Homo sapiens: one gene and its partners. The protein of the gene in region 1 interacts with the protein of each later gene in a biochemical or structural test. Each region holds a gene or a part of one and is shown in the gene's direction. Other genes may lie near its edges.

Region 1 (3,751 bases):
ACATATTTGTATATATAGCCTTAAAATTAATGTAAAGTTAGGGGAGTAGTGGGGAAAGTAATGTGAAATGTCTCAGATTTAAGTAGTTAAATACCAGCAAAATCTTTTCATTATCCCTCTTATTTTGTGAGGTGATTAAATGTAACTTAATTGTATTTAATTTATATCTTATTCCAGCATGAATGAGGAAAAACTGAAGTACTATTTATATTTAGAAATTCATATCAGTTGAAATTACAGAACCAATTCCATACTTACAATAAATACTTAATGTCTAAATCTGTGGTAGAGTGCGAAGTATGATAATGTTCTAAGTTATGGCTTTGCAAGCATCTAAATGTGCATTTAATGAATACCAGTGCTTCTAGTATAGACTAATTACCAGACATACTGGTACTGAAAGCTAAATCCCTATTATAACAAACCAGTTCCTTAATATTTTAAGTAGACTGACAACTTTAGTTCCAGAAATTGCAAAACTTTGAACTGGACTGTGTAATCTTTTGAGATGCAAAACTTAAGTCACAAGTAGAGTATGTGATGGAAAGCTGTATTTCAAACCATAACAGCATATTTAGAGCCTTTTTTTTTTGAGTCTTTAAACAAGAGAAAATTAAAATATTCCTGTCAAAATTATTAGTATTGAAATTAGGCTTGGACACGAGAGAGAACCGTATTTGAGTGATGTGAGAAGACTAAATCTTTTCCACATGAGTCAGCACTGCCATACTAATAATTTTTTTACTATAAAAATACAGGAAGGAAGTATACATTATAACAGCAGACTGTGTGTGTTCCTGATTCCTGGAGGTAATAGTGGGGGGAAACCAACCATACTTTTTAAAGGCACTTTTGCACCTCTATTGTGCACTTCATTCTTGTACCACTTAAATTCTTCACCCCCATCCCCTTTTTTTGTGCTAATTAGCATCTCAGGGCAATGCCTCAAAAATGTTTGATGTGTTCTGTTCTTTGGAGGGAAAAAGTTCTTATGTGATGATAATATAGTACTCAAAATATACTTTTATCATTTAAATGTCTTATTTGCTGCTATGAATAGGAAATAACATTTTGTATAGCAGGCTCTGTTTTACCCTAACATTAAAAAATTTCACTGATCTTTCTTTCATTAACAGGGTAGAATCTCCTAATTTCCACTTTCTTGGGAATATACTTTTATAGACAATAGAAGCAGTTCTCAATATTAGCATATACTTTAAAAAATCAAAGTGATAACTTAATTCAGCTTTGGAAGTATCTCAAACATATTTTTACTTTATAGTGCATTAACTTGCTTCTAGAGTACTTAATGCAACTGCTCTAGCCACTTAATTTTTTATACTAATCTCAACATTAAGAAATTTGGATTAAGTAATAAATTAGTTATGTAATTCAAGTAATCTGAATTACAGCAGTACTTTTAGTGATCATTCATAGGACTATATATTAACCCAGCTAATAACTCAGTTTTTTTACAAAATGTTTCGAGTATTATTGGTAAAACACTGTTCTAGGCTAAGCACATTGGGACTGTAAAGAAATGAGTAGATCCTTGGCTTCAAGTTTACATCTGGACAATTTATAATCTAGTGTATGTTAGTATTATAACTGGATCACTCATCAAAAAATATATATATATATCTATTGCCCACCTGCTATCTACCAGGTACTTAGCTGATCAAGGCAGGCCCCTGCCCTAAAGACCTTGTTTATACTTCCTTTACTCACCTGAAAACTGTTCTCCAGTTTATTTTCTTCTCTCTAAAGTTAAAGAGTAATTCAGAAGAAAATTTTGCTTAGCATAAGAATAAAATTGGACTGAAGAGGCTTAAGCCCATTCAGTATCCTTGATTGCATTTATCCAACGGCCTTTATTCTTCCTGCTGACAGCAGTAACTCAGAGGAATAGGTAGTAGATTTCTGAAAATTATCCAGCCATGGAAATGTAGGTGGGGTTTGAGTTTAAGGCATTTAAAAATGTAAATATCTCTAGCTAAATTTATCTTAAGTAGAACTCTGTGTTTTTGTAACACACTGCCAGTGTTAATATCAAATTTTAGCCAAATTATTACTATGTGTTTTAATATTTTAAAATAATTTCACTGCCCATCTTTACTGGACAAACTCATTTGGAGTTCAACTTGTGATTTCTGAAAGAACTGATGAAATTGGGTACTGCTTTTTTTCTCCATTTTTCGTTTTGTTTTAATTTTGAATTTCATGGTATATACTTTTAGTTCAAACTCAGCTGTTTGTACAGTATTGTATTAGGATTTGGTATTAGAAAAGATGTGTAAATATCTTAGTATATAATTGTTTCTCATTTGAGGTTTTTCTTCTAAGGGACCTTAAAGAGTTTTATATACTTTTGCTCACAGAAACTGCTGGTGAGATTACCATTTTTTGAGTATCTAGTCTTCTAGTTTTTCTTTTAGGCATTAGGAAGCCTTCTTTAGAGTTCAAAATTTTAGAAGCCTAATTTGCTCTTACTTCCTTCAATTATGTGCCATGTGTTTTGGTTTGTATATGTTTTAAATTGTATATTTCCTTGGAATATGCTTGAAATATTTAAGAATACATTTTCAAAATGTATAATACTGTATTGTTTTGTTGATCAGAATAATAAGTCTCAGTTAAATGTTTGTTATTACTGATAGTCAAAATGCTCAATAGAAATGATGAGAGGCATTGGTTCCAATTCATTGTCAAATGAACGTTTTCTAATTTTGTTCACAGATTCTTTCCCTTTCGATTGTTCTGTATGTTAAGATAGTGGCTTCTGCTCTCACTGTTTTCCTATTTATATTACTAGCAGGTAGGAGTGCTAATTAGAAAAACTTAGATGGTATTGAAATTACAGTTGACAACTTATATTTTTATGAGATGGAGAAAAAAGATTAAGTTGATATAACAACAAAGTGGACTTTTTTTCTTCCTTATCCTGCACGAAATATTGCCCTTGTTTCCTCTACTTTCCTCTTGGTGTTTTCTCTTTTTTTCAAACAGAAACAGGCCAATTCCATTTTCTTGAGCAAGAAAGCTTAGTGTGTTACTTCATCAAGGCCAGCTAATACTGTGTTAAACCGGGCTGAAAATGAGAAAACTTGGGAGATGGAGGAATGGGGAAATGGCAGTGGGATAGGTAGGGAAGGATTACTCTTAATTGTTTTAAAAGCCATAGGAAAGTCTTCCTTGTACGTGGCTGTAAATTTATAAGAACTATTGTGTCACATAAACCAACAAGAATGAACCTTTGCTGCTTCAGATAATTTGATTTTTCCAGCAAGGAAATTAATAAGTTACTGATTCTTCAGCATAGAAACAACTGAGAAGAATTAATGCAATGTTTCTTCACTAGAAAACCCAACCCTTCATTTCTTTTCATTGCTCCAAAACCCAGTTTTCAACTAATGGTTTTCTCATTAAACTAAATGTTTAGAAAAGTTGTTTAGAGTTTTTCTTTTTCTTTTACATAGTCCTCCTGATCCAGTATAAGACTATTTAGTAACGTGCATTTGTATGGTACTATCTAAAGTAAGTTAGATTGATGTAAGAGATCGGGTAGCTGCGGAACAAAATTAGTTATATCCTAATTAGGTACAGTGAATGACACAAAATCATTTTAGCAATGCTTCTTAACCTTTTGGGGTCACAGGCGTTTTGAGACTGATGAATCCTAGGGACTTATTTACCCAGGAAAATGCGTATATAACATACATATCTCCCTAAAGTTTACAATATTGTAGTGGTT
Region 2 (3,751 bases), about 43 Mb from region 1:
CGTTACAAAACGGCTGTGCTGAAGATACAGAATGTTCCCAGCCCCCTAGAGGCCTCTCCTTGTGCCTCCTTCCAGTTGATACCCCAAAGGCAACCAGTACTCTCACCTCTAACGCCAGATTGTTCTCACCTGCCTTTAAGAAATGAAGGTATTATATATACATACACACAGTGACATGCACTCATCTTAAGAAGACAGTTTGAAGAATGTTTACTTATGCGTGCTCCCATGTAACTACTACCCAAATCCAGGCATAGAACATTACCAGCAGCCCAGAAGGTTCCTCCTCTTGTTCCAGTCAACAACTCCGGCATAGGCAGCCACTCCTCTTCTTCTTCTTCTTCTTCTTATTATTATTACTATTATTAAGACGGAGTCGTGCTCTGTTGCCCATGCTGGAGTGCAGTGGAGCGATCTTGGCTCACTGCACTTTCGCCTCCCGGGTTCAAGTAATTCTCCTGCCTTAGCCTCTCGAGTAGCTGGGACTACAGGCGCGCGCCACCACGCCCGGCTAGTTTTTTGTATTTTAGTAGAGACGGGGTTTCACCGTGTTGCCCAGGCTGGTCTCGAAGTCCTGAGCTCAGGCAATCCGCCCACCTCGGCCTCCTAAAGTGCTGGGATTACAGGTGTGAGCCACCGCGCCAGGCCCACTCCTATTTTTAGCTCCAGAGATTAGTTTTGCTTCAGGCTCCCTTAACGTCCTGCTTCAAACCCCTATCTGCCCCTTCATCGGCTCCACCTGGAGGCCACCGCTTCCACGGAAGCATGACCCCTTCCCCTGCACCCGCGCGCCCCAGAAGCTCTCAGATACCCCCACGATTTCGGTGACCTTCCGCAAGCTCCAGGAAAAGCCCCTCCTCTCCTGACGCCAAGGGTTTGTTGGGGTTGGGGGGTATCTCCATCAGCCTCCCTCCCCCAGCCACCCAAATTAACCAACAATCTTAGTAAATGCAGCGACTCGCTAGGCAAACCCAGCCTGGAGACAAATATCCGGCCCCTTTCCTACCAAACTGTCACACCTAGGCATTGGTCTGCAGGGAGGGCTGGACAGTGGAAACTGAAACCCTCTGCAAGCCATCACGAATCCACCGGGCACTGGGGACGCTGGCTCCCGCCTTGGCAGCATCCCCCAGAAGCCTGGGCCCTGACCCCACACCGTCTGGGCCTCAGTCTCTCATCGGTAAAGTCAGGGGTAGGGCCCGAGTCTTCCAGGACCGCTTCGAGCTGGGACAAGCCGTTTTAAATAGCCCACAACCCGCCGAGGCCATCAGAGCTGCGCCTGCCGGGCCGCCCTCGACCCCCACCTCGGCCGGGCAGGTCCGAGGCCCCGCAGGCAACATGGGCCCGCGGACTGCGGGACGGGGCTCGACGGCCTGAGATCGCGACTCTGCCTCTCCGATACTTGGGGTCGTCTTCGGCCCCGGGATCCGCGACGCGCGCGGTCGGACCCCGAATACTGAAGGCACCGGGTCCGCAGGGCGAAGGCGCACACGCCCACCAGGCGCGCTCTGCGCATGCGCGGGCTCCGCAATCTCAGCGGCCCACTCGCCCCGCCCCGCCCCCCCCACCCCCACCCCGCGCCGCTCCCCAGGCCCGGCCCTGCCTTCCCAGCATCCCGGCTCCCTACGGCAAGCGGCGAGGCCCGAGCCCGCCGGGAGCAGGGAGCCGGGCGCGGGGCGGGGCGGCGCGCTGAGGTCAGCGCGGCGGCGGCCGGCCCCGTAGTGGTTGGCTGCGCTGGTGCTGGCCGCGCCCTGGTTGGCTGCGGGCCGCGGGGCTGGGCCGCCGGGTCGGGGCTGGGGTCGGGCTCGGGCGCCGGCCGGGCTTGCGCAGCGCTAGGCTCCTCGCCGCTCCTAGTCTGCGGCGGCGGCGGCGGGGAGGGCGCGGCCGCGGGCGGGGCTGAGGGCGGCGGGGGCGGGCCGCCCGAGCTGGGAGGGCGGCGGCGCCGAGGGGAGGAGAGCGGCCCATGGACCCGCGGGGCCCGGCGCCCCAGACTCTGCGCCGTCGGGACGGAGCCCAAGATGTCGGCCTAGGCCGGGGCGCGACGACGCGGACGGGGCGGCGAGGAGGCGCCGCTGCTGCCGGGGCTCGCAGCCGCCGAGCCCCCGAGGGCGCGCCCTGACGGACTGGCCGAGCCGGCGGTGAGAGGCCGGCGCGTCGGGAGCGGGCCGCGCGGCACCATGTCGGCCAAGGTGCGGCTCAAGAAGCTGGAGCAGCTGCTCCTGGACGGGCCCTGGCGCAACGAGAGCGCCCTGAGCGTGGAAACGCTGCTCGACGTGCTCGTCTGCCTGTACACCGAGTGCAGCCACTCGGCCCTGCGCCGCGACAAGTACGTGGCCGAGTTCCTCGAGTGGGGTAAGTGCGCGCCGGCAGGGCCGGACCTGCGGCTCTGCGACCCCCGCGCCCCAGCCCGCGCATCCCCACGCCCGCCCATCCCCGCCCGGACAGACCCTGCCGCCCTCCTGCCCACCCAGCTCGTGGGCTTCGCCTCCTCTCGCTCTGGCAGCGCCCCCAGGCCCGCAGCCCATCTCTCTCCAGCCGCTCCTTGCACCCTCGTCCCTCCGCTAGCTTTTCATCCCTCCTTGCCCTCCCTAGGCTCGACATCCGCGTTCGATCGTCCCGCCCCCTCATCCTGCCCCTTGGAGCCACATCCTACGTTCCCACTCCCACCCCCTCCCCCCCGCCGGGCCCTCGCCCTGGCGGCTTCCTAGATCCACCCTCCGAGTCTGGATATCATTTCCTGCAGCACTCACTGGGATATCCGCCCCCGCCCCCGCCCCCGCCCCCGCACCTCGCCTTTGGGGTCCGGAGGCAGTGTGGAATTAGTTCCCTTTCCCCACCCCACGCTTCTCTGCGTTGTGGGGGCAGCTGGGTGTGCTTTCTGCATCTGCCTCGCCCACTGCCCCGTGGGACCCCCTTGCATCCCCAGGGAGCCCAGCTCTAACGGCCCCTCCTGGGTGACAGCCTGTCTACATCCCCTTGTTGGTCAGAGCCTGAATACCTACTTTGCTGTAACACCTTCAAGGGAATTTTAAGGTTAAGGCTTTATTTTAAATAAACCGTGCAAGAGGACTTTTTTTTTTTAATTCCAATTCTGCTAGACCTTTGTGATATTTGGAGGGGTAGCTGGAGCTATCACTTAGAAACTTTCTCATCTGAATTTTGCATGCCTTCTCTAGTTCGTTCCGGATCTATAATGTTTTAATCATTGGTCAGCTAACCTATTATGCTTTTTTAGGACAAAAATTTGATTAAACCATTTAACGATAATTAGGATCCTAAAGACAGGTAAAAGTGCAGCGTGAAACTCTTTTACTTCATCTCTCCCTAACGGGTGTGCCGGTCAAGACCCTCAGACTGTCTCACCTAAAACCACTGAGTAGGAGGAGGAAATGCGTATGTTCAGGCCAAACCTATGAAAACCTTATCCTTGGGTCATTTGCGTCACTGGGCTAGGACTGTTCAGTTCGAACCAGTAATTTCTAATCTTTGGGGCTGATAAAGCTGATATTTATACGAAGAAACAAATGAAAGTGTTCCACAGTGAGGCCTCCAGGCCTCCTACTCTACTCTGCCAGATTGGTGACTGGAATTTGGAATTTTGTTTACAAATAAAACTTAAGTTGCAATATTCTTTAGAGGGCTTCTGTTGGATTACTCTGTAGTGAAATGTTACACGGTATCTTGTGAGAGCAGCAGTAGAAAGAGGTCCTGAGATCAAGGACAGCCTGTGATGCTTTATTTCCGTGGGAAC
Region 3 (3,751 bases), on another chromosome or scaffold:
GGGAGGCTGAGGCAGGAAAGTCACTTGAACCCAGGAGGCAGAGGTTGCAGTGAGCCAAGATTGCACCACTGCACTCCAGCCTGGGTGACAGAGCAAGATTCCGTCTCAACAAAAAAAAACAAAACAAAAGCAATATGTATTGCATTTATAACCGAAGAAAAACCAAAGGTGAATCTGATTTCAGAAAAGTAACTTAAGGAAATGTAACATCTAAAAATAAGAGGAAAGTATCAAATCTAAATTTAAATGGGATAATGATAACCCCAGTTTAGTATTTATGGTGATTTTCTTTAAAGAAGAAAGAATCCCTTAGACTTTATGGAGTGCTCTGTGACCGTGTTGAGCTATCTTAAGTGGATCAAAGATGTTCTTCTATTTTTAGGCCTTGTACCTAATAGCAACTAATGGAACCCCAGAACTTCAGAATCCAGAGAAACTTTCCCCAATATTTCGGGATTTCTTAAATCGATGTTTGGAAATGGATGTGGAAAAAAGGGGTTCAGCCAAAGAATTATTACAGGTAAATTTAAAAATGATTTCATTTGGGGGAATAGTTGACTTTTTTGGTAACCGACAGAAAGCTTTCCTAGGGCTAATAAGTAGATTTCACTACTCATTGATCACCAGCGGTATGGCAGCTGCTGCAATTTAGGGTTTCATCCTACCATGCTGAGCAAACTACCGCAAGGACAGAAAACCAAACACTGCATGTTCCCACTCATAGGTGGGAATTGAACAATGAGAACACCTGGACACAGGAAGGGGAACATCACACACCGGGGCCTGTTGTGGGGTGGGGGGAGTGGGGAGGGATAGCATTAGGAGATATACCTAATGTAAATGATGAGTTAACAGGTGCAGCACAGCAACATGGCACATGTGTACATATGTAACAAACCTGCACGTTGTGCGCATGTACCCTAGAACTTAAAGTATTAAAAAAAAAAGTGAGGGTTTCATCTGCTGTGAATAAAATTCTGACAAAACCGTAATGTGCAGTTTGTGCATCGTATCAATCCTCAGACCTGTTTACAGTTTGTGCATCGTATCAATCCTCAGACCTGTTTACAGTTTGTGCATCGTATCAATCCTCAGACCTGTTTACAGTTTGTGCATCGTATCAATCCTCAGACCTGTTTACAGTTTGTGCATCGTATCAATCCTCAGACCTGTTTACAGTTTGTGCATCGTATCAATCCTCAGACCTGTTTACAGTTTGTGCATCGTATCAATCCTCAGACCTGTTTACAGTTTGTGCATCGTATCACTCCTCAGACCTGTTTATTGCTGTTGTGTGTATATTTGTCAAACTAAAATGATTCTGCTTTCATTCAACTCTGAAAGTAATGCGTTGATTATGTTAGTCTTATGAAGGTATTAATATGTGTTTAGTTTATTAAATTATGATCGACAAGTAGTCTTTGGGGCTTAATTGAACAAAATTATTTTGTTTCTAACCTGATGAATGGCACTTATACATTTATTTTTCCCCTTCTTTCTGGCAGCATCCTTTCCTGAAACTGGCCAAACCGTTATCTAGCTTGACACCACTGATCATGGCAGCTAAAGAAGCAATGAAGAGTAACCGTTAACATCACTGCTGTGGCCTCATACTCTTTTTTCCATTTTCTACAAGAAGCCTTTTAGTATATGAAAATTATTACTCTTTTTGGGGTTTAAAGAAATGGTCTGCATAACCTGAATGAAAGAAGCAAATGACTATTCTCTGAAGACAACCAAGAGAAAATTGCAAAAAGACAAGTATGACTTTTATATGAACCCCTTCTTTAGGGTCCAGAAGGAATTGTGGACTGAATCACTAGCCTTAGGTCTTTCAGCAAACAGCCTATCAGGGCCATTTATCATGTGTGAGATTTGCATTTTACTTTGCTGACTTTGTTGTAATAGATCCCATTCATTGTCCCCTTTGGGGTATTTCCAATACTTGAATGGCAGATTGGAGTTTTTCAGAGTATGTGTTTCATCTGCTAGTCTTTCTCTCCTTCATAGCTTTTCTTTTCCTGGACTTGCTCCTTTTGAGTTGCTTTTGCGTTTCTCATGCCTAGGCAAGTGTAATAGAAATTATGTAGCTCCTTATGTTGGCAAAGGAGCTCTATATAGTTTCACTTTGTATAAAAGTTAGGACCAGCTGTTGTTACATGTAATATTTTAGTTCAGAACTTGACCTGAAGGAAGGGAAGAAAAGTATGTGATTTTTACCTTTTTTAACAAATGTGAAAAAGTCAGTTTTAGAAATTTCGTGGTAGTAAGTTCGGCATTTGTTACATGTATAGAGAGAAGACTAATAATCTCTATTTATAACTAAATCATTGAGATAGAAAAAGATTCCCATTGACTGTAGACTTCTTCCCATTTTGTCTTCCCTTCTGCCTGTTTCCCCTTCAGGCTTGGCTCTAGGAACCAAAGTGATTTGTTGTTGTTCCAACCTGGGCTTTGTGACTTTGGTTAGTGCCACTACCTTCTTCCCTCCTTTCCCCCTTCAATTTGGAAATAAATTTCTGTATATGTTGCAATTTTAGGTTTAGGTTTGTTCTTTTTCTTTTTCATTAATCCTCTCTCACCTCACAGATACCCCCTCCCATGGCAAATAATATAATAACCAGTGAATTTTCAGGAATTTAAAAATTAGCTTTTTTCCACTTAAAGGAGAAAAATATTTGGGACTAGCAGCAGAGGCAGTAAGAGATGTGAACCTTGGTGAGCTCTGATACAGTGAGAAGAGATTATACTCATGAAAGAGAATGTTAGTGTTACAGAGAAGCAGCCGATAGCAAATCGACTGTAGAGACTTGGCGGCGGTGGCATTGCCCCAGGTCGTCAGCAGTGTGGTATTATCTATGAGAACTTGAGCGACAGAGTATTTCTTGATGAATTTATAGATCATTTGAGATGTTGAGTTACTTTAGTTTAGTTTTGTTTTGTTTTTTCAAATAAGTAGAGACTATTGTAAAAAACGAGAAAGGAAAATGAAATGTGCGTGTTGATAGCAATAATTTGTTTCTTTTAAAGATTCTAAAAGGTCTGAGACCTGTAGCATTAATTATTTGAGTGCCCTCCCTTCTCCCCTCCCCTCCCTTTTCTCTTCTCTTTTTTCCTCTCCTCTTCTTCTCCTTTATTCATTGTTTTGCTTTTGGAGTGGGTGTTGTTCAAGTATCTGTGGTTTGGTTCTGGCATTTTGTTCCCACCATCCCCTTCCCCCATTAACTTCCCCCCTGCTTGCCATCCTGCAGTAGTATAAATCATGAATAAAAAATAATTTTGCTGTTGTAGTATACATTGGAGAAACTGGCAGGTTTTATTTCCATTATTTTATTTCCACTATATCTATGATAAGATGCAATTATAAGGAGAGAAGTGACTGTTTTTTATTGATAAGGCAAGATTTTCAGAAAAATGAGTAAAATAATTAATGAAACATATTTAGAGCACTTAATGGTCTCTGTTTTCAATATAATTCTTGATTTCATTTTTCTCTGGAATATATTGGCCTTCTACAGCTATTACTGAATTATAGAAACTGGTTTATTTCTGGCAGAAAGCTGCAGTGCCACCTGAGTTCCAAATTTTACCATTCTTTGTAAACAGTTGGATGGATTATGATAAAGAAGATGCTACCAATGAAATAGAAAACCAACGAGATGAGAAGACTGTGATCCTCATGTACTCAGAGGCACTTCCCTCCTAAGTCAAAGACCATCCTCACTGACTATGTGCCAACGCCTCGTTTCAG

What was found.
Region 2: of the proteins of PPM1A (region 1) and CDC42BPB, one has a biochemical effect on the other in vitro, tested with the Homo sapiens proteins (one study listed by BioGRID).
Region 3: of the proteins of PPM1A (region 1) and PAK2, one has a biochemical effect on the other in vitro, tested with the Homo sapiens proteins (one study listed by BioGRID).

The regions. Positions count from the first base shown.
Region 1 is NC_000014.9:60,294,134-60,297,884, forward strand, and holds part of PPM1A (protein phosphatase 1A), read left to right. Parts: 3' UTR 1-3,751. UniProt on the Homo sapiens protein: Enzyme with a broad specificity. Negatively regulates TGF-beta signaling through dephosphorylating SMAD2 and SMAD3, resulting in their dissociation from SMAD4, nuclear export of the SMADs and termination of the TGF-beta-mediated signaling.
Region 2 is NC_000014.9:103,055,600-103,059,350, reverse strand, and holds the start of CDC42BPB (serine/threonine-protein kinase MRCK beta), read left to right. Parts: upstream 1-1,801; 5' UTR 1,802-2,177; coding exon 2,178-2,352; intron 2,353-3,751. UniProt on the Homo sapiens protein: Serine/threonine-protein kinase which is an important downstream effector of CDC42 and plays a role in the regulation of cytoskeleton reorganization and cell migration. Regulates actin cytoskeletal reorganization via phosphorylation of PPP1R12C and MYL9/MLC2.
Region 3 is NC_000003.12:196,826,814-196,830,564, forward strand, and holds part of PAK2 (serine/threonine-protein kinase PAK 2), read left to right. Parts: intron 1-382; coding exon 383-520; intron 521-1,505; coding exon 1,506-1,592; 3' UTR 1,593-3,751. UniProt on the Homo sapiens protein: Serine/threonine protein kinase that plays a role in a variety of different signaling pathways including cytoskeleton regulation, cell motility, cell cycle progression, apoptosis or proliferation.